Linked DNA regions of Homo sapiens. The protein of the gene in region 5 purifies or fractionates together with the protein of the main gene of each other region. This does not show direct contact. Each region holds a gene or a part of one and is shown on either strand. Other genes may lie near its edges.

Region 1 (5,932 bases), on a different chromosome or scaffold from region 5:
TAGCATGTTCTTTTCTTTGTTTTTGGTGGGGCTGGGGGAGGAGGCTTTGAGATGCCCAAGACATGCATGGTTTCCTATTTTAATACAAATTCTTATTCATTGTTTCTCAGTTTTTCTATAGGATACCACAAAGACCTCTCAACATACATTTGAAGGAAAGGAAGAAATGGAGGGAGGAGAGAAGGCGGGAAGGAAAGAAGCAAGGGAGGGAGGAAGGAAAAGAGGAGAGGGGGAAGGAAAAAATAACAAACTCCAGTCCTGTCCTGGGGTTAGGGAAGGGCATGACCCACCACTAGACATAAATCACAGTGGGCGAGCTCTCTGTCAACCTCCTCCAGAATGGCAGGATCCAGGTTTTCTCCAAACCACACGACGTGAGGTCGCAGCAAGCCCCCGCAGCCTGCCTCTTCACACCTGGAAGAATGGGATCCTTAAGCCAACCCCGAGCCAAGTCTGCCCAGCTGGATCGGAGGGAGGCCAGGGGCTGCCCCAAACCTAGTACATCCAGATGGGTCACCTCTGATGCCTCTTATTCCCTACACCCTCCCTCCCAGCCTATATAAACTTGCCTTGCTTATGAAGCATCAGGTTTAATGGTCTTTTTTTTTTTTTTTTTTTTTGAGACGGAGTCTCACTCTGCTGCCCAGGCGGAAGTGCAATGCCATGGTCTCCGCTCACTGCAACCTCTGCCTCCCAGGTTCAAGCAATTCTGCCTCAGCCTCCCGAGCAGCTGGGACTACAGTCATGTGTGACCACACCCAGCTAATTTTCGTATTCTTAGTAGAGACATGTTTCACCACATTCGCCGGGCTGGTCTCAAACTGCTGACCTCAGGTGATCTGCCCTCCTCGGCCTCCCAAAGTGCTGGGATTACAGGCATGAGCCACCGCGCCCTGCAGAACTGTCCTTATTTTTTATCTTGTCTGTATGTACTTGATGTGCTGACACATTGTTTCAGCTAAGCTTTCCCAGTTCATTCATTATGCTCACATTTGTGCTCACAGCCACCCAGACCTGGGAGACATACTGGACTCAGATTTGCCTCCCACCCCAAGCATCCCCTAATTTCATCAATGACCTCCTTTCATGTTCTCTCAGGTTCATGTCTCTCTGGCCCAGTATGTAGCCAGCTTTCCTGTGTCCATTACTAAAAATCTCTCTTCTTTCACTCCCTCCTACCTCAGGGTTACCTTCTATACACCTCCTAAAACCATCCCCCAAACACCATTTTCATCATAGTAATCTCCTGCATCACAGGAATCCTCCAGGTCTACCTATTCCTTCAGAAGAAAACTTTTAATATTTAGCAATTAAAACCCTCATGAGGAAAATTTAAAAGGTTCTGTGGTTAAATAAGCCAGTAAAGCATTAACATACGTATTACAACCACTTTTTAGAAGGCAGCAATGTGGATTAAATGCTCTAAAAAGTCCTGCAGTAAAGCAAACATATTTTAACTTTGTTTAGTCTAACATTTCCATATTTATTTGAGTGCCTAACATGTTTTTTTCAAGTAATGTCTCAACGTAACATTAAATTAATGTTCTATGAAACACTTTTAGAAGTGCTGTTTTATTTTACCTTAAAAACACTCTAATCCAGCCGGGTGCAGTGGTTCACGCCTGTAATCCCAGCATGTTGGGAGGCTGAGGCGGGTGGATCATCTGAGGTCAAGAGCTCGAGACCAGCCTGGCCAACATGGCGAAACCTCATCCCTGCTAAAAACACAAAAAATAGCCAGGCGTGGTGGCGGGCGCCTATAATCCCAGCTACTCGGGAGGCTGAGGCAGAAGAATCACTTCAACCCAGGAGGTGGAGGTTGCAGTGAGCCAAGATCGTACCATTGCACTCCAGCCTGGGTGACAGAGTGAGATTCCATCTCAAAAAAAAATAAAATAAAATAAACACAACAAAAAAACTTCTAATCCAATTACAGGTTATAGAAGTGCTGTTTTAATGCCTGGTTTTGAAAAATTGGCATAAAAATCTTCCTTTTTTTTTTTTTTTTTTTTAATCTATGAACATTCTGTTTGGTCCTGTAACCTCTCCTATTCAGGTCCTTTCATTGCCTCCCTAACCCTGGATTAATAATGCCAGTGATGTTATTTGACCAGTTACAGGTCAGCCCCTATGCTTTCTGTACACTGGGTAACCACCTGTCGCACGACAGCTTCAGAAACTTTCCCGACCTCAAATGATCCTACCACAACACAAAGCAAAAAGAGGTTGGAAAAAAATCATTCTTTTCATCCTAATTTGGTTCATCCTTTGTCCTTTCACTTTTGGTCTCAGAGATCAAGCCTGGTTTTTACATTTGTGCATTTGATTTAAGAGGCGTCTTGCCAAATACATGTTTAGGTTTTGATGTCTGTTTTTTTTTTTGTTTTGGTAACCTGGAACACCAGTACAAATCAGAGTTTTCTACCTACCGGGGAAGTTTCTCAACTGGGATGCTGGCATCTTGAGTTCCAGGTTCTGGAGCACTGAAGTAAATAATATTAGAAAAGAAAGATTGTTATTGGCATAATAAAAAATAAAGAAACAACATAACTCAGTTTGTATATTTGCCTGGCAGTATGTGGTATAAAACTCCTAATTAATACATGCTCACTTGGAAGGGCATTAGAAGGAAGGACCCCAAGCCATTAATTACCAGTGGTGCTGGGCACAGTGGCTCATGCCTGTAATCCCAGCATTTGGTGAGGCCAAAGTGGGAGGACTGCTTGAGGCCAGAAGTTCAAGACAACCCTCGGCAATACAGTAAGACTGCATTTCTACCAGAAATACAAAAATTAGCTGAGTGTGGTGATGTGTGCCTATAGTCCTAGCTACTTGGGAGGCTGAGGCAGGAGGATTGCTCGAGCCCAGGAGTTGGAGGCTGCAGTAAGGTGTGATTGTGCCACTGTACTCCAGCCTGGGAAACAGAGCAAGAACCTGTCTCAGAAAAAAAAAAATCACCAGTGGTTGTACTGCCAGTGAGGGAATGCATGTGTGGGGAGGGCTGGAGTGGCTGGGTGTGCCAAGGGGGAACTTCATGTTTACCTTTATACATCATCATCATCATCATTTGTATCCTCTGCAATGACATTATATAGTCCTTATACAATTTATACTGTTTTTAAAAGGCTGAGTGGAATTTTTCTCAATATTGTGTCTACCCTCAAATTTTTTCCTCATTGTAATAATAGTACATGTTCATAATAGAAATATAGGAAAATTCAGAAAGATATAAAGAAGAAATTAAAAATTACCCATAATCCCTCCACTCCTGATATTCCTTATTAACATTTTGTTGTATTTTCTTCTGGTCTTTTAACTATATACAGATACACGAACTCATTGTGTGTACAAATTTAGGACCCTGTGGTTTTCACTTAACACTGTAAGTTGTGAGCAAAATATTTCTTTTATCACATGGCTATATTTAGTTTTTTTGTTTGTTTGTTTGTTTTTTGAGACAGGGTCTCCCTCTGTCACCCAGGCTGTAGTGCAGTGGCATGATCTCAGCTCACTGCAGCCTTGACTTCCCAGGCTCAAATAACCCTCCCACCTCAGCCTCCCTAGTAGCTGGGACTACAGGCATGTGCCACCACACCCAGCTAATTTTTGTGGTTTTTTGTTTTGTTTTGTTTTTTTGTAGGACAGGTTTCTCACTGTGTTGCCCAGGCTGGTCTTGAACTCCTGAACTCAAGCAGTCTCCCCACCTTGTAACCCCAAAGTGCTGGGATTACAGGCATGAGCCACTGCACCCAGCCTTGTATTTAGTCTTATTTCTCATAAATATCCATGGGAATCTTTGATGAATGTTCAATTTCCTCACATTTATGTTCAACCTAAAGGAGAAAACAACCTATACTTATTCTGTAGTGTGGTATAATTACCCTTTTCCTGATAAAGCTGGACAAATTGGACTCTTGTAATTCTCAGCCACAACTCCACAAGAGGTACATCGAGTTTTAAATAAGCTACCTGAAAAATACATATGAAGCAAATCCAGAATTTAGTATAATCAAGAGCAACCTTCTCCATGTCTAAAAGGGTATAAGATACTTTATTTTTCACACTTCATTTCATGTTTTGGTCTCACCCAGTTACCCAGGCTGGAGTGTAGCAGTACGATCATAGCTCACTGCAGCTTCCAACTCATGGGCTCAAGCGATCCTCCCACCTTTGCCTCCTGAGCAGCTGGGACTATAGGTGTGCACCGCCACACTGAGCCATACTTCATTTTAGCAAATGGGCCTACCCTAGCTTTAGCTTTCATGGGAAACAGAGGCATGCAGTACTCTTAAGCCAGTCAAGAGCATATGCCCTCAAGGACTTTATAATCTGGAGGAAAAATAAATAACTCCATGACTAATGTGCCATCAGATGACCTTGGAGTGGTGTTCAAGTGGGCAGAAGTTGCCAATAGGGTAGAGGGAGCTCAACCTAAATCTAAGGGCGTGATTTATTGACATGACTGACAAAGGTTCAATGGCGTGGGATATGTTTACAAAATTTTAACTTCGATTTCAGAAAGCTTGAATCTTTTATACAAAAGCACCTCAATAAATAAGTAATCAACTAATAAGTGAAAAAAGTAATTGTTAATACTAACCACCACTTATTGAGCTGAAGCAATCATGGTGGCCACAGTTTATGAAATGGGTACCAGGCAACTGGTGCCGTGCAGAGCACTTTCAACCCTAGTGGACATGCGCTGCTCCGTCCTGCCCACCAGTCCTTCCTTGGGGAGCACCATCCCTGCTCTCTCGCATGCTGAGCCAATAGGGCTGTGGGTCACATCCCAAATACAAGCTCAGCCACATGCTGCGCACGGCCCCCATGTGGTGTCCATCCCTCTGCAGTCGTGTTTGGTCAGAAGGGTGGGCGTGTGGACCAAGCAAGCCTACCCAGAGGTTTATTTTCTGAGCAGGTGGCTGAGCTGGAGCCGTCGGAGGCACTCTCCCTTGGCGCGTGGAGACAGATCAATTGCAGAGAGAGAAGGGAGGCCACCTCAAAGAGTGAGCAAAGCTGAAAGAAGGAGGGGGACAGGGGCCGGGAGGAAAGATGACATAAGCTGCACCACTAGGCTCCTCAGTTTTGTGAGCCAATAAACCTACTTTGTCAGTTTTAGCATAGACATTTTTCCCCATTTTCACATCTCTGAAATTCAGATGTGTCCTACAATTGCTACTGGCCAGATGAGACTGTAACATCATCATCATGCTTGCACAGACTTGTTGAAGGAGAACACTGAAAAATGGGGTGACTTTGTTGTTATTCTCCGTGGCCTGACCGGGCAGATTCAGCCCCTGGATCCTTCCGCCAACAAACCCTTCAAGGGCCACTTCAGGAAGGAAAGCAAGTTTTGGCTGTTGTCTACAGCCTTTCCACTGATGCCTTTTGGTAAGAACATGTCAGGCCCAATAGCGAACTTGCGGAAGGTGTGTCAGGAGCTTGGATGAGAATCCCAGCTATAACAGAGGGGCATTCTCTCAGGAAACGCTGCATCATCCATCTCCCGAGACACAGAGCATGAAACTGCATGGAAAACACAGACATCCGTGCTCTGAGTCACTCAGAATCATTTAGAAGAGCTAGATAATGAGAAATATTTGGACCAGTTTATCATACTCATACTTTATGTATGCCTGGAAAGATATAATTTCTAAAGAACGTGTCTAAGTTTTAACAAGCTCTTTCTCTAAGTATAGAATAATTCTAAGGGATAATAAAATAGTATATCATGGTTTAGGCAGATTATATTCTAAATGCCACATTAAAAACATGATGCATCTTAAAAAAAACCCTTCATCAGACTGAAGATGCCATTGATTTTTTTTAACCTAAGTTAGAAGAGAGTTCTCATCGTTTGAAATTTTAAAAAGTCCTGACTAACACACATATATGATCTTATTTAATCCCGACAACAATTCTATAAGATAGG
Region 2 (6,498 bases), on a different chromosome or scaffold from region 5:
GGTTGAGGCTGCAGTGAGCCATGATCATGCCAGTGCTTTCCAGCCTGGGCAACAGAGTGAGATGCTGTTTCAAACAAAACAAAACAAAACAAAACCACTAAACATAGCATTATTGTATAACTCAGCAGTTTCACTCCTATGTATACACTCAAGAAAATGGAAAACAGGACTAGAACAAGTGTTTGAACACCAATGCTCATAGTAGCCCGATTCCCAATACCAAAAGGTGATAACATCCCAATTGTTGACAGATGAATGGATAAACAAAATATGGTATATACATGCAATGGAATATTATCCCTCCATTAAAAGGAATGAAATTCTGATCCATGCTACATGAAAGAACCTTGAAAACTTGATGCTAAGTGAAATAAGAAACACAAAAGCCCAATATTGTATGATTCCACTTATAAGAGGTATCTAGAAAAGGCAAATTCATAGAGACAGAAAGTAAAACAGAGGTTACTAAGGGATGGAGCAGAAGGAAATGGGAAGTTATTGCTAATGGGTGTGGAGTTTCTGTTTGGGATGATGAAAAGTTCTGGAAAGCATGATATAGTTGCACAATATTGTGAATGTACTTAATTTCACAGCATTGTACACTTAAAATGGTAAATTTTATGTTATGTATATTTTACAATAAAAATGTAAGTGGTTAGATCAATCCTATAATAAAAAGCTTATAAAAAATGAGTAGAAATGGCCAGTCGTGGTGGCTCACGCCTGTAATCCCAGCACTTGGGAGGCCGAAGTGGGCGGATCACTTGAGGTCAGGAGTTCAAGATCAGCTTGGCCAACCAGATGAAACCCCCGTCTCTACCAAAAAAATACAAAAACTAGCCAGGCTTGGTGGTGGGTGCCTGTAATCCCAGCTACTCGGGAGGCTGAGGCAGGAGAATCGCTTGAACCCGGGAGGTGGAGGTTGCAGTGAGCCGAGATTGCACCACTGCACTCCAGCCTGGGCGGCAGAGTGAGACTTTGTCTGAAGAAAAAAAAAAAAAAAAGTAAAAAGGAGAAGGAGAGTGAGAGAGAAAAGGAAAGAAGGGGTGGGGAAAGTTTGGGGTATTCAGTGAATCAGAAGTTTGGGATCAGCTTCACCCCCACATAGGGGCTGGCACATTGCAGGCACTCAACTCAATGAGAGAATGGTAGGGAAGGAGGGATTTTGAGAATTTGGCTAGGGTAGACATTGTATCTCCCAGAATATTCTGGGAGAAATCGAAGTTAAGACTGGAATTCTTCTTCTTCTTTTTTTTTTTTTTTGAGACAGAGTCCCGCTCTGTCACCCAGGCTGAGGTGCAGTGGCACAATTTCAGCTCACTGCAACTTCCGCATTCCGGGTTCAAGCGATTCTAGTGCCTCAGTCTCCCAACTAGCTAGGACTACAGACACACGCCACCAAGCCCGGCTAATTTTTGTATTTTTAGTAGAGACGGGGTTTCACCATGTTGGCCAGGCTGGTCTCGAACTCCTGACCTCAGGTGATCCGCCCGCCTCAGCCTCCCAAAGTGCTGGGATTACAGGCGTGAGCTACCAAGCCCGGCCTGGAATTCTTCTTAAATTACTTGTGTTACTAAACTTTACTTCTTTGAATACAACTCGTTGTTGAGGTTTGGCCACACGGGGCCCTGAGCATATAAGTGGGTTCCCCTAGGGGAAGCATGGAGGGTGGTAGGGTAATGGCATCTATTTAGTCTGGTGGGTCAGGTGCCAGCTGAGCCTTACAGTCAGGAGAGGGAAGGATATTCAGGCAGAGGAGGCGCCGAGGCAAAGGCTGGAGGACAGAGATACTGCAGGGTGGGCTACAGCTTTGCCTCTCGGTCAACTGGGCCCCAGGCCTAAGAAACTGAAGCGATGGGGATGATCCACACCCAGACCACGGGTTACAGAGGGGTCTGTCCATGGCGGGCGCAGGGCGCTTTCTTTGCGTCGGAGGGTGTCTGGAGGGAAGGAGAAGCCTCTGGAGGGAGGGAGAAGCCTCCGGAGGTCGCCCGCCACGTGTCTTGAGCCGGGTTTCCAGCAGAGGGCGCACAAACGAGGCGGTGCTGAGGCCCGCGAGCTGCCGCTCTAGCCGAAACCTGGTCAGAGAGTCGCACCGCTTCCGTCCGTCGGACAGAGGAACGGTGGAAGTCGCCGGAAGTTCGGTGGGCTCCAGGCGTCGCGATGGAGGAGAGCGGGTACGAGTCGGTGCTCTGTGTCAAGCCTGACGTCCACGTCTACCGCATCCCTCCGCGGGCTACCAACCGTGGCTACAGGTGACTACCCACCGCCAGACCAGGCTAGCTCCAATTTAACCCTTTCTCCGCCACCCGGACACACCCACTGCGGGAACCGAGGACAGCCCTGGCCAGTTTTGGGGCGAGGGGGAGCTAATGCTGCTGCTTCTTCCAGTTCCAGGCCCGAGCAGGGAGGTGGATCCAGAGTTTCGCCCGTCTCAGTTCGACGCACGGGACTCCTGGCGGCGGGGAGGGCGTTAAAGCCGTATCTAGCGCTTAGGGACCCCGGTGGGCTGCCGGGTACCCTAAACTTGGTCGGGGGTGGTGATGTCACAGACGCTTCTCTTTCAGCGCTAACCGGTGGCCTTGAAGGGATCCTCGAAAAGCCTTAAGCGGGGAGGTGCCCTATCACAGACGGAAATCCCCGAGAGGAGGGGAGGGAGCCCAGAGCCGGCTGAAAGGACCGGTCCCGGGGAGCTTTAAGGTGACGGTCGAAGCCCAGGGACCCCTTCCTACCCAGATCCCTTCGCACGAATTTCACCCTTGATCACAGCCTGGAGCAGTTGGGAGGACCCCTTCTATATTTCTCTGGTCTCTACCTGAGACGAATAAACACACACGCTTGTAAACATACTGAGTATCTCTGCAAAGGAACACAGGAAACTGCCCTAGGGGAGGGGAACCGCCCTTGGAAGGAAACTTCCTTTCCCTTTTGTGCTGTTTGCGTTTTACTACTCTTTGTATGCGTTATCTATCAAAACGACGAAAAATATTAAAAGAAAAAAGATACACTTCATACAGACAACCTGGCCTATGGCTATTTTGTGCCACTGAGTGGTGGTGGGGAGTGCTCGTATTTGCGGGGGCCTGGGTGGCTCTTGAAGGCGATGGTTGTCCAAGTTTTTCGGAAATACAGGATTGGTCTGCACCCCAAGAATGATGGAACGTCCACATTTCCTCTTGTTACTTTCCAGTTGTGTTACCGTGGGCTCATAGCTGATCTTATGGTGAAAAGATGCGTTAGTGAACATTACATTCATGACATATTTTAAAATAGTATAAAAACAAAAACAACAATAACCAAAATACATTTGTTTTCTGTCATCAAACTGTGGTTGGACCATCAAACCATTGATGGTCGTCTAGCCCCATCTCCTGTTGGGTCTTTTTTTTTTTTTTTTGAGACAGAGTTTCCCTCTTGTTGTCCAGGCTAGAGTGCAATGGTGCGATCTCGGCTCACTGCAACCTCCGCCTCCCGGATTCAAGCGATTCTCCTGCCTCAGCCTCCCGAGTAGCTGGGATTACAGCCATACACCACCACACCCGACTAATTTTGTGTTTTTAGTAGAGATGAGATTTCTCCATGTTGGTCAGGCTGGTCTCGAACTCCCTACCTCAGGTGGTCCACTCGCCTCGGCCTCCCAAAGTGCTGGGATTACAGGCAGGATCCACCGCGCCCGGCCCCCTATTGGGTCTTTAGTAGGATGGATTTGGTTCCTCTTGGTGCCCCAGAGAGCGAGGTTATGAATTGTCAGGGCTGGCTGGTTTAGCTTAGAGGAAACTACCAGTGCCTGCACTTAAGTCTTGGAGCTCTCCTTAGCCTGAATCTCAGGCCTGGTAAGAGGAACAGGAACTGAGTCTGCTGATTTGTGAATTGAGAATCTGCATTTGTGCAGCCCTCAAGACAGCCGCGTCCAGGGTTCTTGAGAACTGGCATAGGGACTTCTAAGAAAAGCCTCCTGGAAACACCTGCGGTTCTTGCTATTTGGGGATTTAACTGACCTTTTCTTAGAACTAAAATGTGAAGTTAATGCTTTAAAAGAGTCAAAACAGCTGGCTGTGGTGGCTCACGCCTGTAATCCCAACACTTTGGGAAGCCTCGGTGGAAGGATCCCTTGAGCCCAAGACTTCAGGACCAGCCTGGGCAACATAGACCCTATCTCTATAATTTTTTTTAATTGGCCTGGTGTGTTGGTACACACCTGTAGTCCCAGCTACTCAGGAGGCTGAGGTGGGAGGATCTCTTGAGCTCAGGAGGTTGAGGCTTCAGTGAGCCGTAGTTGCGCCACTGCACTTCAGCCCGGGTGACAGAGTGAGACCCCGTCTCAAACAAATTAGAGCCAAAAGAGGCATTGCTGTAGGTTCATGGTTTCCTGGGTTTCTTCCTAAGGACCCATTCACTTTTCTCACATGTACTGTTGTTCTCCTTTTCTCTTCTGGTGATTGTTCCATGCTGTCTTTTTCTTTCAAGATAGTCTCACTGGTCTCAAATGGTCGCTCTGACTGCTGCAGTCAAGCAGTGTCAGAAACAGAATCAGGCCCCTGCAGCTGCTGCTTCTATAGAAAGGAAACTGGAAGGAAGTCCTACGTGGAGGAGGACACTGTGGTCTAGAGAGGGGGTCACCAAGTGACAACCCAGTGTGTTTTTGTATGGTTCACACCTAAGAATAGTTTTTACATTTTTTAAATGGTTTGGAAAATTTTTAAAGGAGAGTATTTCATACTGGGAACATTACATGAATTTCAGATTTCAGTGTCTACACTTTGATTGAAATACAGCTGTGCTCAGTAGAAAATAGTTAAGATACCTAAAGCATCACCACGTGCATGTTCTATACTGATTTTACCCTACAGCAGCCGAGCTGCCTTGTTGTGACAGGCTGTGTGGCCTGTAGAGCCAAAGATATTTACTGTCTGACTCTTTACAGAAAATGTTTGCCAACTCTTGGGCTAGAATAAGCAGCCCTTTCCATTCCCAGCATTGGGGTCACACAGCAGGAGCCTCTGGCAGAGATTCAGTGGTGTTTGTCCCCTTAGGGCTGCGGAGTGGCAGCTGGACCAGCCATCATGGAGTGGCCGGCTGAGGATCACTGCAAAGGGACAGATGGCCTACATCAAGCTGGAGGACAGGACGTCAGGTAACCGGAAGGGAGGCTGCATCAAGCTGAGGGGCCGCACCCCACTTTATGAAGGGAGAGGTGGCCTGGTCTGGCCAGGCTGCTCAGGGGTCATGGGAACCTGTCCTGAAAAATCAGAGACGTGTGTGTACCTTTAAGCTGTACCATTCCCCCACCTTAGTTGTAGAAAGTACCGTCTCCAGGTGTAAAAATGAGTATTTCATGTCAAACACTAGTTCCTTTTAGGAGTCCTCAGGAAAATGTGGGGGCCAAGGAGAGGAGACCGCAGCTTGGTCCTGGTAGGAAGTAGGAAGCCCTGGAAGTGGCCTTGAAGACAGGCGGGTGAGGATGCACAGCCCTCTGCCGCTGGGCTCTGCTTCCTACTGAGGAATTGTTTATCAATGCAGCGGTAACTCCCAGAGCTGACCACACCCATTAACCGAAGAAGCTGGAAACTGTCCTACTCAGCTCTTTCTGTAGTGAGAGGACGAGCTGAGCTGGGTTGTGTTGGGGTCAGCTGGCAGAGATCGTCTTGGGGGAAACTTCACAAGTCCTGGGCCACCTGTGCCTCTGGGTGAGCTGTGGAGGGCAGTGCACCTGGAATCCCCCAGCCGAGACCCCTAGTGGGGTCGGACACAGTGTCTGCTCAGTCAGGTGCCACAACATTCGGTCATTTATTTTTTCTAATATGTAGAGATTTTCCTTTGTAGAGCAGAAGAGAAAGTGCAAAAGTTTAGAGAGAGAACTGGCTGCCTCTTCTCAGAACTATGTTCTGCCTGAGCTGCTGGATGTGGGGTGAGCCACATGACCTCTGGGGCCTTGGCCTCCTCCTTGTTGAAATGGGGATCATATTAGTTCCTCCTTCATAAGATTGTTGGAGAATAGGAAGTGAGCAGATATTTCTGTAATGCTTTACGGACTGCGAGGCAACCCAAAGCATTGATGTGTTCTTCGGGAACTTGGGTACTGGCGGCAGAGGAGTTTGGAGAGGCAGCTGCCATGGCCAGACCAGAGACTTTAAGCTGGAGAATTGCTGGGACACCCCAGGTAGTGTCATAAGAGAATGGTAACACCTCGTTCTCTGAGGAATTTGGTAACTGCGACTTTATTTTAAAAAATCATTTGTTTTTAGATGGAGTCTTGCTCTGTCACCCAGGCTGGAGTGCAGTGGCACGATCTCAGCTCACCACAACCTCTGCCTCACAGGTTCAAGCAATTCTCTGCCTCAGCCTCTCGGGTAGCTGGGATTACAGGCGCCCCCCCACCACGCCCAGCTAATTTTTTTTGTACTTTTAGTAGAGACGGGGTTTCACCATATTGGCCAGGCTGTTCTTGAACTCCTGACCTCGTGATCCGCCCACCTCGGCCTCCCAAAGTGTTGGGAT
Region 3 (4,972 bases), on a different chromosome or scaffold from region 5:
AGACAGCTGCCAGGCAGGTAGAATTACAGAAGCATAATGAAGAGATGGTGATATTTAACAAATATTCTCAGCACGGAAAATTATTCTGCAGTTAACCTGAGCCAAAGAGCTGGCTGGCAGTGGCACACTGCTCAAGTTGGGTGGCAAGTTCTGCTACTGCTTCAAGGCAGGGACAAGTGAGAGGTATGGCTTCCTCCTGGACTTGATCACATTCATTCTTGAACAACTTGCCTTGTCTCAGCTTGCTCAATTGAATAATATTTTATGTGAAATGATCATAAAAAGCTTGAGATATGAACATGCTTAGGAATGTGGGGTAATCTGCATAAAAAAAGAAAAAAGGAACAGAACTGTAGTGACACTGAACAGATACTCTTAGTTATGGATTAGTTATGGCATTTATCCCATCCTGAAAAAGCAAAACACTTTAGAAAAACAAGTACCTATGTTTTCATATGTTCCTGGGCCAAACAATGATGGGTTTGAGCCCTTTTAGCTATTTCTCATGACATCCAACACTTGCTACTTGTATCATAATTAACACATCCTTTGCCTCCTACCAGACCCAGCCCATCACAGCACTGAGAACAGGTGTCTGATTTGTCTCTCTCTTGGTGACTGGCATTTTTGTCAGTAAATCCTCCTCATCTCTTGGCTGTGCCCTGAGTGCCTCCACTGCTGCGGCTCAGGCATCTCAGGCATCCTGCATTTCTCATTGGGACAGAGCAGCCTCCTAACTTGTTTCTATACCTCCAGTCTTCTGATGGTGGATGGTGGGGAGGAGGCGGGGAGGTCCATCTTTATTTTCCATCTACCCACCACCCCATCTGGGCCAACACTTTAATATCACTGATGAATCTCTGGGGCCCAAGCCTCCCATCTTGCATTCCTCATCCCTGCCTTGGCGAGGATCCTCTCCTGGTCTTCCTGAAGGGTTCAAAAGTCGCTTCTGTGAAGTCTTCCTGAGTATGGTCCCTTTCCTCTGCAGCACTCTCAGGAACCCTCTGCAGCATGCATGTTGCTCCTTGTCTCTGTTCACTGAACCCTCACAACTTGTTTACACATTACCCACCCACCCTGCCCTCTGCAACCCAGGGGAACGTCCAGGATGGGGATGGCATCTTGTTCATCTTCATATCCCTGGTAGTACCCAGCACAGAGGAGGTATTCAGTATTGGGTTGATCAAAGAACAGTAGGTACTTGACTTCAAATAATTATCTGGTCTTTAAAAAAAAACGCATTTCCAACTGTAGCCTGTACAATTTTTTTTTTTTTTTGAGACGGAATCTCGCTCTATCACCCAGGCTGGAGTGCAGTGGCGCAATCTTGGCTCACTGCAATCTCTGCCTCCCAGGTTCAAGCAATTTTCCTGCCTCAGCCTCCCGAGTAGCTGGGATTACAGGTGCACGCCACCATGCCCGGCTAATTTTTGTGTTTTTAGTAGAGACGGAGTTTCACCATGTTGGTCAGGCTGGTCTGGAACTGCTGACCTCGTGATCCGCCCGCCTCAGCCTCCCAAAGTGCTGGGATTACAGGTGTGAGCCACCACGCCCGGCCTTTTTTTTTTTTTTTTGGAGATGGGGTCTCACTATGTTACTGAGGCTGGTCTCGAACTCCTGGGCTCAAGTGATCCTCCCACCTCAGCCTCCCAAGTAGCTGGGATTATAGGTGTGTACCACCATGCCTGGCTAGGATTCATGACTTTATTTTCCACCGTACTAGGTGCCAAGGAAATGGTATTCTAGTCCTCAAGATATTCAGAGTCTCGTAGTGGGAAATGACATGTAAACAATTATTCTCAAATAATCAACGTGCTGTGTTCACTGTGTCCTATAGTGATAAAAACAGATTTGGTGTCCTTTCTCTTTTTCTTTCTTTTTTGAGACAGAGTCTCGCTCTGTTGCCTAGCTGGAGTGCAGTGGCACAATCTCGGCTCACTGCAAGCTCCGCCTCCTGGGTTCATGCCATTCTCCTGCCTCAGCCTCCCGAGTAGCTGGGACTACAGGCGCCTACCACCACGCCTGGTTAATTTTTTCTATTTTTTAGTAGAGACGGGGTTTCACCGCGTTAGCCAGGATGGTCTCAATCTCCTGACCTCGTGATCCACCTGCCTTGGCCTCCCAAAGTGCTGGGATTACAGGTGTGAACCACCGCGCCCGGCCTGTCCTTTCTCTTTCTGAGCAATCCTTTGCTCAAGTCCTCTATAGATTTTTCAGGTCCAGGTTTTAACTCTTCCAAATTAAGCAAGCATTCTCAACACATATGTCCTACCTACATACCAGGCCAAATGAGAAACCCTCCAAATGCCTGGGTTAAGCCTTTTAGCCATAAAGTCTTTTCCACCAGAGCATCAAAGTCCATGGATGGCCGGTTCTGAAGCAGAACAGCAACTATTAGGGTCCAGGGGCTCAAAACCATGTTTTCAATTTGCAGAAGCTCCATTTTGTAGGCAACTTCAGTGACAAAGGCATGCATGTCCTCAGACTGTTTCTGAGGAATGTATCTAAAAGGAAGAGCACAGAGCAACAAATTACAGTTCTGTTACTTAGACAAATGGGGATGGAAAAAGACTCTAGACGTTTTAGAAGGCTTCTCATACTTTGTGCCAACTGAATTCTCTCAGGTCAGGTGCAAACAGTATTCCTTTGCTTTACTATAGTGTAATCTGACCATACATTTCTGGAATATCCTCTTGAGAGATGGTAAAAATACTGAAGGGGTCCAGGGTCCTATTATTCCTGGTTCCAGGCAAAAAACTTTTGTTGCTTCCTAAATAGGATACATCGTTTCTCTGAGAATGGATGCCTGCCCCAGTAGACTAAATTACTATCTTTTCAGAATGCATAGCACGCTGAACATATCTCCATTGTAGAACACACTTAACAGATTATATAATAACTATTTTATACTGAATGGGTGCCATTCAGTTTGTCTGACTTCATGCATGGATTACCAAACTTTGAATAGTACAATAAGGCCTGCACAGAGCTGGCTGGAGCAGAGATACACACATGACCTAAAAATTGCCACACAGGTGGCTTAATGTGAAAGATGCAGCCAGTAAGGGTGCCCTGTACTAGGTAATAGCCAGCCAAACCAATTTGAGATCTAAAGAGAGAGCCTGTGTCAGGAAAAAAACTAACATAAGCGTCTGTGATGACTAATGTAGCTGCTGGGAAACTGCTAAAGCTACAGATAAGTTACAAATGATGTTGCAGCACATGAGGCCTGGAGGGGCAGATGGTTTGTCTCCCTTACTTGTCCAGGTATATTTCTCCTAATTAAGAAAACTCAAATGTGTATCTGTGTTCTTTATCCTGAAAGAACCTAATATATTTTCTTGCCTATAAAACTATAACTCTCTAGAGACTAAGGACTCACTCCCATTCATTACCATTATGCAATCCTTTCTAGGGTCAAAAATAATAGTACATACTTTGGCTAGCTTACCAATAGTGCTCAACAATTCCTGCACATATACTTGTTAATAATGGCATTATTTATTCCCACTTTAGTTCCCTTGAGAAACATGATCATTGTCTGATTTTGCATATTTGACATACATATCTCACAGCTTATCTTTTTTTGGGACAAACACATAATTCTTCTTTAATTGAAGGTTTCCACTGATGAAAACGGAATGATAACAGCATTTCTGATCATTTTCTCTGTAATCTTAAGTAAATCAAGAGAAGTGGTCAACTCCAGCATTGCAACTCACACCTTTGGATTTTAATCCTCATTTCTAAGACAGTTATTAAAACACAGGTCACACCTTGGAACCAAGTTATATGAGCTCCGACTCATCCTCCCAGCTGCCAAAGATCGAAGTGACACAGGATCTCCAAAGTACACATGGATGCTTCCAAAATTTTCAGAGAGAATCTTTCTGGCTTTCAGCAACCCCTAATAGTACCATAACAGGGGGGGAAGAAAACGAAAAGCAGTAAATTTAGAAATTAGTTGATGTGTCAGTCAGCACATTCTCTCAATTAAGCTAAAATCAAGCTCACGTACAGTTGTAGACTCTTTTGGTTTAGGAACCCCTAGAAGCTCATACACATAAAGAGTTTCTTCCAAGATCTTATCATAACTGATACTAATTGGGACAAGGTAGGTATCAAAAACTTCTCTTTTAAAAAATGGCTCCATCACAATATTCAGAAGACCTGCAAAACACAGGGAGAAATGCTTCATCAACATATTGAAGAGCAGAGCAAACATGAGCACATAAACGGAAAATACTAAAAGCATACATTATACACTAATCCCGTAAATATCAACAGTTATACATTTACACTTGAAAAGAATATCTTGTTAAATAAAGCGTCAAGTTTTATGTAGCAGCTGATGTCTTTGGGTTTGTATTTTTCCTTTTAATCTGTAGTGACCTACCAAATTTAGGAGTCAATGTCTTGGCAGAGCGGCTTCTTGTCCCTTCGAGGAAAAATTCAACAGGAGCATAACCATTCTTTAAAGAGAAAACAAACAAAACACAAAACCCATTGCCTACTCTCAAAATGATAAATGCTTCTTTTGATTCCTTTTCCCAAGCTCCCTCCCAAGCTTCCTGAACAAACACAGCTTACAGTGAAAATTAAACAAGAGAGTCACACAGATTAAACCAATTGCTGAGGTTATAAGCAGTTCTTGAGGGAAAGCAAAATAGCTAAGTGTTCTATTCAGAAGTTAAGAGTTTAAATGAGCAAACATCAGTGAAGAAAATATGGCTTAAGAGTAGTTGGGAATTATTTGCATTTACCCGTAACATAGTTTTTACATATTCAGAGAATACAGCCCAGTAGAGTTTATTGCCACCAAAGGTACGCCGCATGAAAAAGGCACCCGACATTCGTAGCAGCTCACCAACCATTTTCATTCCCAGGAAGTCTAAAAAAGAGGGGATAATATTTATTTGCAGATCTTGAAATCTTCTATAAAGATCTAAACTTAAACATGCTTATTTTTCAT
Region 4 (5,932 bases), on a different chromosome or scaffold from region 5:
GAGTGAGGCCTTAAGCCATGTGATCTTGCCACCACTCTTGGAGCCTCAGAGAACACAGTTGGAAGGTCAGTGATCTTGTTCAAGCTGCACACTTTACAAGTGAGGGAACTGGCCCGGAGAGAGAGACATGATTTACCAGTGGTCATATGGCACAGGTAGTCTAGGATTGTTAATTTTCGTCCTAGTGCTTTTCCTCCTTGTACTACCTGTTAAGTTACGTTTGATATAACACTCTTTAGGAGAATCCTGATTATTCTGAAGAAATCCTTAAGGGCGAGTTGGCATGGATCATCTACAAAAATTCTGTAAGCATAATTAAAGGTAGGTATCTTTTGAACATTATTTTTGGTAGGAAAGTGAAACATTCTTTTCTTAATGAAGATCTTTAGCTAGTTTTGAAATTTTCCATTAGAATGTGTATAAAACTCTGTAGGAATAGTGTCCTGTTTCTTTCAGAAAATACTTATTTTTCCTAGGCTATAATTGAACATTTCAGTAACTTATTTATTTTTTGAGATGGAGTCTTGATCTGTTGCCCAGGCTGGAGTGCATTGGCGTGATCTCGGCTCACCACAACCTCTGCTTCCTGGGTTCAAGTGATTCTCCTGCCTCAGCCTCCCAAGTAGCTGGGACTATAGGTGTGTGCCACCCTGCCCAGCTAATTTTTGTATTTTTAGTAGAGACGTAGTTTCACTATGTTGGCTAGGCTGGTCTCGTACTCCTGACCTTGTGACCTGCCCGCCTTGGCCTCCCAAAGTGTTGGGATTACAGGCGTGAGCCACCATGCCTGGCATAAGTCTCTTTTTAAAATTTATATTCTACTCCCATTTTTTTCCCTTAAATTTTAATAGGTTTGGGCCGGGTATGGTGGCTCATGCCTGTAATCCCAGCACTTTGGGAGGCCAAGGCAGGTGGATCACCTGAGGTCAGGAGTTTGCGACCAGCCTGGCCCACATGGTGAAACCCCATTTCTACTAAAAATACAAAAATTAGCTGGGTGTGGTGGTGGGCGCCTGTAATCCCAGCTACTTGGGAGGCCGAGGCAGGAGAATTGCTTGAACCCGGGAGGTGGAGGTTGCAGTGAGCTGAGAGCGCCTGGGCAACAGAGCGAGACTTCATCTCAAAAAAATAAAAATGTCAATAGGTTTTTGGGGAACAGGTTTAGTGGTGATGTCTGAGATTTTGGTGCACCCATCAACGAGCAGTGTATACTGTACCCAGCGTGTACTCATTTATCCTTCCATGTTTTTTTTTTGAGACAGGGTCTTACTCTGTCACCCACGCAGGAGTGCAGTGGTACAATTATGGCTCACTGTAGCCTCGACTTCATGGGCTCAGGTGATTCTCCCATTTCAGCCTCCTGAGTAGCTGGGCATGGACCTCTATGCCTGGCTAGTTTTTGTACTTGTAGTAGAGATGAGGTTTCACCATGTTGTCCGGGCTAGTCTTGAACTCCTGAGCTCAAGTGATCCTCCTGCCTTGGCCTCCCAAAGTGATGGCATAACTGGTGTGAGCCATTGCACCAATCCTCAGTAAGTTCTCATGGAGTAATTAAATCGTGGGGAGTTGAAAATTAGTTCTTTTTTTATGAATACTCCAAAGATTAACAATAGCTTTGCTTGAGTAGGGGGACACTGGGGTGAGGGGACTATGGGATGACTTTTCTTCTATTTTATTCTATTTCTCATTTCAAAAAACAAGAAGATTAACTCCAGTACATGAAAAGAATGCTACTTTTAAAGTAAAGTGATTCTTATTGGCAATAAACTTCCCCTCCCCTGCTTTTTAAATTTAGGTGCAGAATTTCACGTGTCACTGCTTTCGATTGCACAGCTATTTGACTTTGCCAAAGATCTACAAAAAGAGATTTATGATGAGTAAGTAAAGTTAGTAGAAAGGTGAATATATCTATTTCTGATCTTGAGATTAAGGGTTTGAGGTTGGATATTTAGTAGAAGAGAAAGAAGATACCACACTAAATCCCTGGAATAAAAGCTAATATTGGCCGGGTGCAGTGGCTCACACCTGTAATCCCAGCACTTTGGGAGACTGAGGTGGGTGGATCACCAGAGGTCAGGAGTTTGAGACCAGCTTGACCAACATGGTGAAACCCCGTCTCTACTAAAAATACAAAATTAGTTGGGCGTGGTAGTGCATGCCTGTAATCCCAGCTACTTGGGAGGCTGAGCCAGGAGACTCGCTTGAACCTGGGAGGCGGAGGTTGCAGTGAGCCAAGATCCCACAATTGCACTCCAGCCTGGGTGACAAGCAAAACTCCATCTCAAAAAAAAAAAAAAATTAATATCATATTACGTTAAAAAAAAATTTCCTGGCCCAGTGTAGTAGCTCACACTTTGGGATCCCAGTACTTTGGGAGGCCAAGGCAGGTGGATCCCTTGAGCTCAGGGGTTTGAGACCACCCTAGGCAACACGGTGAAACCCTGTCTCTACAAAAAATAAGCTAGGTGTGGTGGTGCATGCCTGTGGTCCTACCTACTCTGGAGGCTGAGGTGGGAAGATCACCTGAGTCTGGGAGGTTGAGGCTGGAGTGAACTGTGATCCTGCCACTCCACTCCTGTCTGGGTCACAGAGTGAGACCGTGTCTCAGAAAAAAAGTATCTTCCTGATTGAGTTCTTTGATTCACTTACTGGGGGAAATAGTTTATTCAATAAAAAAAAAAAATCTAGCCAGGCACGGTGGCTTAAGCCTGTAATCCCGGCACTTTGGGAGGCCGAGATGCATGGATCACCTGAGGTCGAGAGTTTGAGACCAGCCTGACCAACATGGAGAAACCACGTTTCTACTAAAAATACAAAATTAGTCGGGCGTGGTGGCGCATACCTGTAATCCCAGCTACTCGGGAGGCTGAGGCAGGAGAATCACTTGAAGCCGGGAGGTGGAGGTTGCAGTGAGCCAAGATTGTGCCATTGCACTCCAGCCTGGGAAACAAGAGCAAAATTCCATCTCAAAAAAAAAAAAAAAATCTAAAGCTTATATAAAATTCTAAATTCTATTTTCCTGGCATTTATCCATAAAATGAGAGTTATACTCATATGTTTATAGTTGAGTGCTGGTAATTTTATTCTTTTTATTTCTTTATTATATTTTTATTTATTTATGTTTTTAATTATAGAGATGAGGTCTCACTATGTTGCCCAGGTTGATCTTGAATTCCTGAGCTCAAGTGATCCTCCTGCCTTAGCCTCCCAAAGTGCAAGGATTACAGGTGTGAGCCATTACACCTGGCTGGTAATTTTATTCTTTAATGTCTGATTATATGGTTTAACAATTATTTGTAAGCTTCGGCAACATGGCGAGACCTGTTTTTACAAAAAATAACAATAAAATTAGTTGGGTATGGTGACATGTGCCTGTAGTCCCAGCTACTTGCGGGGCTGAGGTGGGAGGATCCCTTGAGCCTGTGAGGTTGAGGCTGCCGTGAGCTGTTATTGCATCACTGCACCCCAGCCTGGGTGACAGAGTGAGACCCTGTCTCAAAAAAAGAAAAAAAAAATATTTTTAGCCTACCTTGTGGGTACTTCCGTTTTTTGGTAACACCTCTTCCTTTGACAGGAGGGGAAATGGAACTTGAATCAATCTGTTGTTTGGATATCTTCAGGGTTTTGAGAGAGGAGTAGGTTGTGCTTTTTCTCTATTATTTAGAAAATGAAGAACCCTGGGCTGGGTGTGGTGGCTTACGCCTGTAATCTCAGCACTTCGGGAGGCCGAGGTGGGCGGATCACTTGAGGTCAAGAGATTGAGATCATCCTGGCCAACATGGTGAAACCCCGTCTCTACTAAAAATAGAAAAATCAGCTTGGTGTGATGGCATGCACCTGTAATCCCAGCTACTCAGGAGGCTGAGGCAGGAGAATCGCTTGAACCTGGAAGGTGGAGGTTGCAGTGAGCTGAGATCGTCCCACTGCACTCCATCCTGGTGACAGAGAAGACTCTGTCTCCAAAAAAAAAAAACAGATGCAGTGGCTCATGCCTGTAATCCCAGCACTTGGGAAGGCCGAGGCGGGCGGATCACCTGAGGTCAGGAGTTTGAGACCAGTCTGGCCAACATGGTGAAACCCCGCCTCTACTAAAAATACAAAAATTAGCTGGGTGTGGTGTCACATGCCTGTAATCCCAGGTACTCCGGAGGCTGAGGCAGGAGAATCGCTTGAACCCAGGAGGCGGAGGTTATAGTGAGTTGAGATCGTGCCACTGCACTTCAGCTTGGGCAACAAGAGAGAAACTCTGTCTTAAAACACACACACAAACACACACACACACACAAACGAAAATGAAGAGCTCAGCTATAATAAAGTTCTTTAGGCTGGGCACAGGGGCTGTAATCCCAACACTTTGGGATGGACTATTGCTTGAGCACCCAGGAGTTGGAGACCATCCTGGGCAACATGGCAAAACTCTGTACAATAAAACTACCAAAATTAGCTGGGTATGGTGGCATGCACTTGTAGTACCAGCTACATGGGAGGCTGAGGTGGGAGGATCACCTGAGCCTGGGAGGTGGAGGCTGCAGTGAGCCATGATGGCACCACTGCACTCCAGCCTGGGTGACAGACCCTATCTCAAAAACAAAAAAAAGTTCTTCAGGTCTCTTGGAGTCTTGTGTTGTCACAGATAACTGCTGATTTGACTTTGAGAGCTAACTTGAAAGTTAACATTTGTGAATGATACCTGAAATATTCTGAAACTCAATAAATGTGGGACAGCTCTGGCCAGGTGCAGTGGCTCACACTGTAATCCCACCCAGCACTTTGGGAGCCCAAGGCAGGAGGATCACTTGAGGTCAAGAGTTTGAGACCAGTCTGGCCAACATGGTGAAAACTCATCTCTCCCAAAGAAATACAAAAATTAGCTGGGCGTGGTGGTATGCGTCTGTAATTCCAGCTACTTGGAAGGCTGAGGCAGGAGAATTGCTTGAATCCAGGAGATGGGGGTTGCAGCGAACTGAGATTGTGCCACTGCACTCCAGCCTTGGTGGCAATGAGATTCTGGCTCAAAAAAAAAAAAAAAAAAAGTGAAAAAGTGGGACAATTCTGATCCATTGACAAAATTTCTACAGTTAGTGAACATATTCTGGAGAGCCTGTTGGGAAATATATTTTTTTTTTTTTTGAGACAGAGTCTCGCTCTGTCGCCCATGCTGGAGTGATGCGATCTCGACTCACTGCAACTTCTGCCTCCTGGGTTCAAGCAATTCTCCTGTCTCAGCCTCTCTAGTAGCTGGGACTACAGTCACATGCCATCATGCCTGGCTTATTTTTGTATTTTTAGTAGAGATGGGGTTTCACCATATTGGTCAGGCTGGTCTCGAACTCCCGACCTCAGGTGATCCACCCACCTCAGACTCCCAAAGTGCTGGTCTCCCAGTGGCGTGAGCCACCGGGCCCGGCCTGGGAAATAGTTTTTATGGTACTGCAGTTGTTACAGGGATGTCCTGTGTAGATTTTTTAAGCACAGGTAACTGTTTCTCTGATATTCTGAGTCAGTTTCTTGTTGTGGGATTGATAACAGTAAATTGTATTTTTCAGCCTTCAGGCTCTACACACAGATGATCCTCTCACTTGGGATTATGTGGCAAGGCGAGAATTAGAGATTGAGTCACAGACAGAAGAGCAGCCTACAACGAAACAAGCCAAAGCAGTGGAGGTCGGCCGGAAGGAGGAGAGGTGCTGTGCTGTGTATGAAGAGGCAGTGAAGACTCTGCCAACAGGTGAACTTCACCAAACCATGGTGTGATATAGAAGGAATAGTATCCCTGATTGTGAAACTTAAGCTCCTGTTCCCATTGCCAAAATCAATATTGGGGATGTCTCTGTAACATAGTTTACGATGAGCCTGGCCTTTTTTTTTTTTTTTTATTGGGAGGCAGAGTCTTGTTCTGTCACCCTGGCTGGAGTTCAGTGGCTCGATTTCG
Region 5 (6,553 bases):
GAAAAAAAAGAGACATTCCATCCAGAAGAACAAATATAAGAGTGGCAGCAGGCCAGGCGCCGTGGCTCACGCCTATAATCCCAACACTTTGGAAGGCTGAGGCGGGTGGATCACGAGGTCAGAAGTCCGAGATCAGCCTGACCAAGATGGTGAAACCCCATCCCTACTAAAATTAGCCAGACATGGTGGTAGGTGCCTGTAATCCCAGCTACTCGGGAGGCTGAGGCAGGAGAATTGCTTGAACCCGGGAGGTGGAGGTTGCAGTGAGCCGAAATCACGCCACTGCACCCCAGCCTGGGCGACAGAGCAAGACTCTGTCTCAAAAAAAAAAAAAAAAAAAAAGGAGCAGCAGCCAACTTCTCATCAGAAAGTAGGCAAACCATAAGAAAATTAACATCTTTAAAGTACTGAAAAAATTAAAAAAAAAAAAACCTGTCAGCCTCAAATTCTATACCTAGTGAAAATATATATATATTTTAATACAGACTCTTTCAAATAAAAGCTGAAAGAATTAATCACCAGCAGAGCTGCCATTACAAGAAATGTCAAAGAAGTTTCCTTCAGGCAGAAGGAAAATACTAGATGAAAAACAGGCTGGGCACAGCGGCTCACACCTGTAATCCCAGCACTTTGGGATGCTGAGGCAGCAGGATTGCTTAAGCCCAGGAGTGTGAGGCCAGCCTGACCGACATGGTGAGACCTTGTCTCTACAAAAAAAAATACAAAAATTAGGATTTACAAATACGACTTCAGGCCCAGCGCGGTGGCTCATGCCTGTGATCCCAGCACTTTGGGAGGCCAAGGCAGATGGATCACTTGAGGTCAGGAGTTCAAGACCAGCCTGGCCAACATGGCAAAACCCCATCTCTAGCAAAAATACAAAAATTAGCTGGGTGTGGTGGCGCATGCCTGTAGTCCCAGCTATTCAGGAGGCTGAGGCAGGAGAATTGCTTGAACCCAGGAGGTATGGGTTGCAGTGAGCCAAGATCACGCCACTGCACTCTAACCTGGACAACAGAGCAAGACTCCATCTCAAAAAAAAAAAAAAAAAAAAAAAAAAAACAAATATGACTTCAACATATTGCAAATACCTTCAACAACTCCGATATCCCTTTGCAAATATCCCTTTACAGGCTGAGGTGGGAGGATCAGTTGAGCCCAGAAGGTGGAGGCTGCAGTGAGTTGAGATCACGCCATTGCATTCAACCACAGGTGACACAGTGAGACCCTGTCTCAAATAAAAAAGAAAAGAAAAATGGATCTGCACTAAGGAATAAGGAGCAACACGATAGTAAATACCTGAGTTCATAAGACTTTTTCTTAATTTCTTTAATCTGTCTAAAAACTTTGGCTATTTAACATGCATTGTGGGGCTCATACCTTAAGTAAAAATAAAATGTGTGACAATAATATCACAAAGAATAGAAGTGGGGAAATGAAAGCATTCTGTGGTGCAGTTCTTACACTATCTGTGAAAGGATATCGTAGTTGTTGAAGGTATTCTGCAATATGTTGAAGTCATATTTGTAAATCCTAGAGCAACCACTCAAAGAATAGAACAGTACAGTATAGCTAATAAGCCGACGGTGAAGACAAAATGATACCATTCAAAACCCTCTAAAAGTGGTTATGACAAGAGAAAGAAAAGGAAGAACAGATGGGACAATGGAAAAATTGGTGACTTACAAATAGTCTGGAGATTAACAGTAATGTGCTAACACTGGTGTTTTAATTTTGATAAATGTACTACGGTTATATAAGATATTCACGAGTGGAAACTGAATTGGGTTATTCAGAGAGAAAGATTTCATCTTCCATATGTTTATATTTTCTGCTGGAAGCAAGCATTTATAATCAAAATTTACCTGGGATACTTGGTAATTTATAATCAAAATTACCTGAGATACTTGAAACAGATTCTAAAGCCCCCACGCCAGAGCTACTGGATCAGAATCCAAGGATGGAGTCTTATAAACGTGCATAAAACTTATGAAGCTTTCCTCATGAATCCAACACAACCCAACACAGGTCTGTATCTGGAAATTGAGACGAGATGGCCCTCCAAGCCACGTCCCACCCTGAGGTCGTCCTATGGCTCTTAGCGGTCCATAGACTAAAAGGCTGGATGATCAGCAACGCTGAGACAACAGTTTCAGTACAGCAGTGGGGATGAGAGGCAAGGTCAAGTTTTGAGGGGCCAGGACACAGCAAAGAAGAGGACACAAGGAAAGGGGAAGGAAATGGAGATGGTAACACGAGGGGAGGGTGGGATCGGTGCACAACAGACGTTTTCAGGATTAGGAACCTGGGTGTATTTTAAGGCAGAAAGCAGAAGCCACTGGAGGGGAACAGAAGACACGAGAGAGGCAAAGTGTTAGAGCTTTGGCCCCAAGATGGCCGGAGGCTAGGGAAGCCCCAGTGAGAGAGGCAGAGCTTGGCGAAGAGGAGGGATGAGAGAGCATGGCTAAGGTCAGGGAGGATTTAAGAGCGATGGCCGCCTATCTAGAATGAGCCGCATGTGGCTGCTGAGCATTTGAAACATGGCTAGTCCAAATTGAAATGCACTGTAAGAACACACACTGGATTTCAAAGACTACACATCTGTAATCCCAGCACTTTGGGAGGCAAAGTCAGGCAGATCACTTAAGCCAGGAGTTCAAGACCAGCCTAGGCAACATGTCAAGACTCTGTCTCTACAAAAAATACAAAAATTAACTGGGTGTGGTGGTGTGACCTGTAGTCCCAGCTACTTGGGAGCCTGAGGTGGGAGGATCATCTTAGTCCAGGGAGGTGGAGGCTGCAGTGAGCCATGATAGTGCCACTGCACTCCAGCCTGGGTGACAGAGCAAGAACCTGTCTCAAAAAAATATATATGTATATTCATTTAGACATATGCTGTTGCACACTTAGACTATAGTATGGTATCAGCATACGTTTTATATTTACTGGGAAACCAACAAAATTCGTGTGACTTGCTTCATTGTGGTCTGGGACCAAAGCTGTAATGCCTCCAAGGTATGCCTGTATATTTCTATTGCAAAATGTGAATCTCGAAATTATAAAAGCTACAACTAGGACAAAAAGCAACCCCACCAAATAGCCCTATATCAAAGAATAAAATCTCTTTCTAGAACCCCAGAATTTGCCTCTTTCAGACTGAAGTTTAGCCAAATCTATGAAAAAAGAGCTTGCTAAACCAACTAATTATCAGTACAAATAAAATTATAATGAAAAGTCTATGAAGATAATTTGTTCTCAGATGCCCTTCACATATAGCAATTAATTCACAAATGATGAGTCACTCATGTGCCTTCATGAAGGCAGGCCCTCAAGAGACCCGCAACAGAAAGGAAAGCCACCGACTGGAGAGAACCTGCTTCCTGAGCCCCACCAAGTTCCAAAAAGGAGAATGGGGCTTCGTCCTCACCCTCAAGGAGTTGCCAAACTGGGCTTGGTTATTATTCACACTTGAAAAGAATGAGGAAGGTCAGCCAGTCCCCTCCAGGTCGCTCGGGCTTCCTCCAAGCTCCTCTTGGTTCAAATTTGCTGTGTCCTCCAGCCGGCATCTCTCCTCTGTTCCGTAACTGACAGGGCAGCGAGGTAGCTTCCGGATGACTCCTCCCGCCATGGTTCTTCCGTCCATCAGCTCTTCCTTCCTCAACTCTGTGGTATGTGGCTAGGGGAGTTTCCAACTCCCAGGGGACATTTCAGTTCCCCAAAGATAACACAGCTTTGCACAGTGGATGTTTACTTGCTGGTGGTCTTATCTAAGATCAACATTGGCAGCTGTGCCCGGAGAGGCCTCCAGGGTCCAGGTAAGTGGAGGCTTCATGTCTCAGGAGGTACCTGGTCACCACAGTTAGGATTTTTCTGTTTGGGGATTTTTTTTTTTATGGGTTGGTGGCTCTGAAAAAGCTGCAAGTCTTCTCTGAGGACTACAGACCTCTCTCCACCCTCTCCACATTCAGCCTCTCTGGGCTCCAGGGCCAAAAGATGTCTACACTCAGGTGGCAGACAGGCCTGTGAAGACCTCCTGGTGACATGCTCATATGTTGCTGGGACTAAAGGTGGGATTTTAGCCACCACAGTGGGTTGGTGGTGAGATGTTTACCAACAGGAGGTACTTTGTCCCTCATGTCCACTTAAAGATTCAGTCCAACCCGGCCTGTGCTTCTGCTGTCCCAAGAGACTCTAGAAAGCTCCAATCCTCCCTGAGGTTGATCTTTTAAGTCAGGGTAGGTGGTCATTCGGCAATCAACTGCTCTACTGCCTCAATGTCCTCCTCACTGGACGTCCTGCCCCAATTCCATCCTGTTCAGCGCAGACTGATTTTCCTGGAACACAATGTTCATTATGGAGCCAGATGGCATATCAGAAAGAGCACTGTATTAGGAGTCAAGAGATCCATGGGGGAATCCCAGCATTGCCCCTGATGGCTGTATAGCTTTGGGGAAAGTGAGGCCCTCTTGGCATTCAGTTTTTCTTCCAGCGAAATAAAGGATTCAGCCTCCCAGAGCTTTAAAGTCTTTCCAACTCTTTCATTCATTCTATGGTCTCTCTCTCCTCAAGAATCCTCAGTGGCTGCCCTCCTGCAAAAAAAGCCCAAACTTCTTGGGCTAGCAGTTCCCAAGGCATCCATCACCTGGCCCCAAACCACCTTCTTATGTTTTTGTTATGACCCCATCGCCACCCTCCCCCAAGCCACCCAGCCTTCTCCATGCTGCCCTGATGTACTCTACCCACGCCTTCACCTCCCCTCTGCTTGCCGCAAAGCCCTCCCTCCAAAGCCCTGCCCCGAGTTCACCACAGGCCTCTTTCCTGGAGCCTTTGCTAACATCCCTGCCGCAAGCCCCAGCCTAAGGTGAGCTCCTCTCCTGAACTGCTAGAACTTCTCTGCAGACAACTCATTGGCCCTTAGGGGTTCCTGCCTGGGCACCCAGTTGGATGAAGCACTCCAGAAAGGAAGAAATTCCTGGGGCCGAGGGAAATGAGGCAGTGGCCTTGGCCTATGCTGGGAAGTCCTATGGGCCTGGTATGAAACCATTGTCATCTGCAGGGTGTTTCACAGGTTAGAAGCCACTTTCCCCCCATCGCCTCATTTCACCCTCAAAGACTCTGGGTAAGGGGAATTATTTGTGGTCGGCGTAAGGCCAGTCAATGAGAGAGGAGCCAGGCCCGTGCTAAGCGTAGATCTTCCACCTCCAGGTCCAATGCACTTCCCTCTCAGAAGAGGCATCCGCTAAAATAGGGACCAAAGCTGCTGGAGGGAGGCAAGGCAAGCTGCTATGTGAAAAAACGCCAGGCCAGGCAGTCATGTCACACCTGGCAGAAATGACTGAAGCATAGCCACTGGCTGAAGTTATCCCCACACCCACTCTCTGGAGAGGATGATCAGGAGCAGTCTGCTCAACCGGGAGGTGGGACTCCTCCTCGGGAAGGTGTAGAATCACCAGCCTGGCTCCCTGCGGACTCCCGGGGCTCACAGAGGCCAGAGCAGCAACAGCACATGGGAAACAACGGGGCGCTGGACTGGGGAGGTCTCAGAGCTCTCCTAGTGATGACAGCCTCATTTTACCCAGGGAGAAAGGGCGAGTAAGCTAAGGTCACACAGCAACAAAGCTGCACCCAGACCCCAGAGCCACTCTCCTCCCTCCCTCCTCCACCAGGGCCATGCCCACTTGGGGCACCCCGCCACCGTGTTCCAGGGACAGCTGGAGCACATGCTTCTTCCCTCGCCAACCCAGCAATTCCGCAGGGCATCTGACCTCCACTGTTGACTTCTACCCAGAGGACAAGAACATTTTTAGTTCCCAAGGAATGTACATCAGCCCCACGGAAGCTAGGCCACCTCTGGGATGGGGTTGCTGGTTTAGAACAAACGCCAGTCATCCTATATAAGGACCTGACAGCCACCAGGCACCACCTCCGCCAGGAACTGCAGGTAAGCTCTCTCTACTCTCCGTGTGCGTTTGCTGACAGGTTTATTGTCCGTGACTGCTGCCCGTCCGTTTAACCTCTCTGGGCCTCAGGAGTCCCCTCTAAACACGGGGGATGTCGGACTGTCTGGCTGGAAGACAGAGCTTCATTTAGGAGCTACCTCTAACCCCCTCCCTGCTGAGTGCCCTGGGGCCCTTGCTGGTTCAGCTTCCTCCCTCCTCATGAAAAGACTCGCCATGAGCTCTCAGAGCCTGGGACAAAAGGCACCGGGGAGGACCCCCAGCCCCTATCAAGTCCTGCTGCCAGGTGTTCTGCCCTGAACGGCCTTGGAGAAGAGAACACACATCCATCATCTTCTACCTTGGGAGGTGGAAGCGGGGGTCCTCTCTACACAGCAGTCAGGACCCCAGATGGTAAAGCCCTTCACGCCATCTGCTGGGCTCCTACCTGAGCAAGCTCAGAGGCACATGAGAAGGGGAGGCAGCTGCCTGGAGACCCTCTCTCCCCCAGGCCCACCTGTCTGCAACCCAGCTGAGGCCATGCCCTCCCCAGGGACCGTCTGCAGCCTCCTGCTCCTCGGCATGCTCTGGCTGGACTTGGCCATGGCAGGCTCCAG

Evidence for each region.
Region 1: the proteins of GHRL (region 5) and SIRT5 purify together in Homo sapiens (affinity purification with mass spectrometry; one large-scale study listed by BioGRID and IntAct). This does not show direct contact.
Region 2: the proteins of GHRL (region 5) and NECAP2 purify together in Homo sapiens (affinity purification with mass spectrometry; one large-scale study listed by BioGRID and IntAct). This does not show direct contact.
Region 3: the proteins of GHRL (region 5) and GNPAT purify together in Homo sapiens (affinity purification with mass spectrometry; one large-scale study listed by BioGRID and IntAct). This does not show direct contact.
Region 4: the proteins of GHRL (region 5) and UTP6 purify together in Homo sapiens (affinity purification with mass spectrometry; one large-scale study listed by BioGRID and IntAct). This does not show direct contact.

What each region holds. Positions count from the first base shown.
Region 1 is NC_000006.12:13,593,514-13,599,445, reverse strand, and holds part of SIRT5 (NAD-dependent protein deacylase sirtuin-5, mitochondrial), read right to left. Parts: intron 3,970-5,932; coding exon 3,882-3,969; intron 2,484-3,881; coding exon 2,430-2,483; intron 1,719-2,429; exon of another isoform or gene 1,582-1,718; intron 417-1,581; exon of another isoform or gene 415-416; coding exon 291-414; exon of another isoform or gene 1-290. UniProt on the Homo sapiens protein: NAD-dependent lysine demalonylase, desuccinylase and deglutarylase that specifically removes malonyl, succinyl and glutaryl groups on target proteins.
Region 2 is NC_000001.11:16,438,599-16,445,096, forward strand, and holds the start of NECAP2 (adaptin ear-binding coat-associated protein 2), read left to right. Parts: upstream 1-2,125; 5' UTR 2,126-2,163; coding exon 2,164-2,255; intron 2,256-2,574; exon of another isoform or gene 2,575-2,700; intron 2,701-5,033; coding exon 5,034-5,134; intron 5,135-6,498. UniProt on the Homo sapiens protein: Involved in endocytosis.
Region 3 is NC_000001.11:231,265,212-231,270,183, reverse strand, and holds part of GNPAT (dihydroxyacetone phosphate acyltransferase), read right to left. Parts: intron 4,892-4,972; coding exon 4,764-4,891; intron 4,473-4,763; coding exon 4,397-4,472; intron 4,171-4,396; coding exon 4,019-4,170; intron 3,908-4,018; coding exon 3,777-3,907; intron 2,505-3,776; coding exon 2,281-2,504; intron 1-2,280. UniProt on the Homo sapiens protein: Dihydroxyacetonephosphate acyltransferase catalyzing the first step in the biosynthesis of plasmalogens, a subset of phospholipids that differ from other glycerolipids by having an alkyl chain attached through a vinyl ether linkage at the sn-1 position of the glycerol backbone, and which unique physical properties have an impact on various aspects of cell signaling and membrane biology.
Region 4 is NC_000017.11:31,880,369-31,886,300, reverse strand, and holds part of UTP6 (U3 small nucleolar RNA-associated protein 6 homolog), read left to right. Parts: intron 1-239; coding exon 240-321; intron 322-1,795; coding exon 1,796-1,877; intron 1,878-5,546; coding exon 5,547-5,728; intron 5,729-5,932. UniProt on the Homo sapiens protein: Part of the small subunit (SSU) processome, first precursor of the small eukaryotic ribosomal subunit.
Region 5 is NC_000003.12:10,290,104-10,296,656, reverse strand, and holds the start of GHRL (appetite-regulating hormone isoform 1 preproprotein), read left to right. Parts: upstream 1-3,709; 5' UTR 3,710-3,743; coding exon of another isoform or gene 3,744-3,815; exon of another isoform or gene 3,816-4,589; intron 4,590-5,205; 5' UTR 5,206-5,941; intron 5,942-6,447; 5' UTR 6,448-6,476; coding exon 6,477-6,553.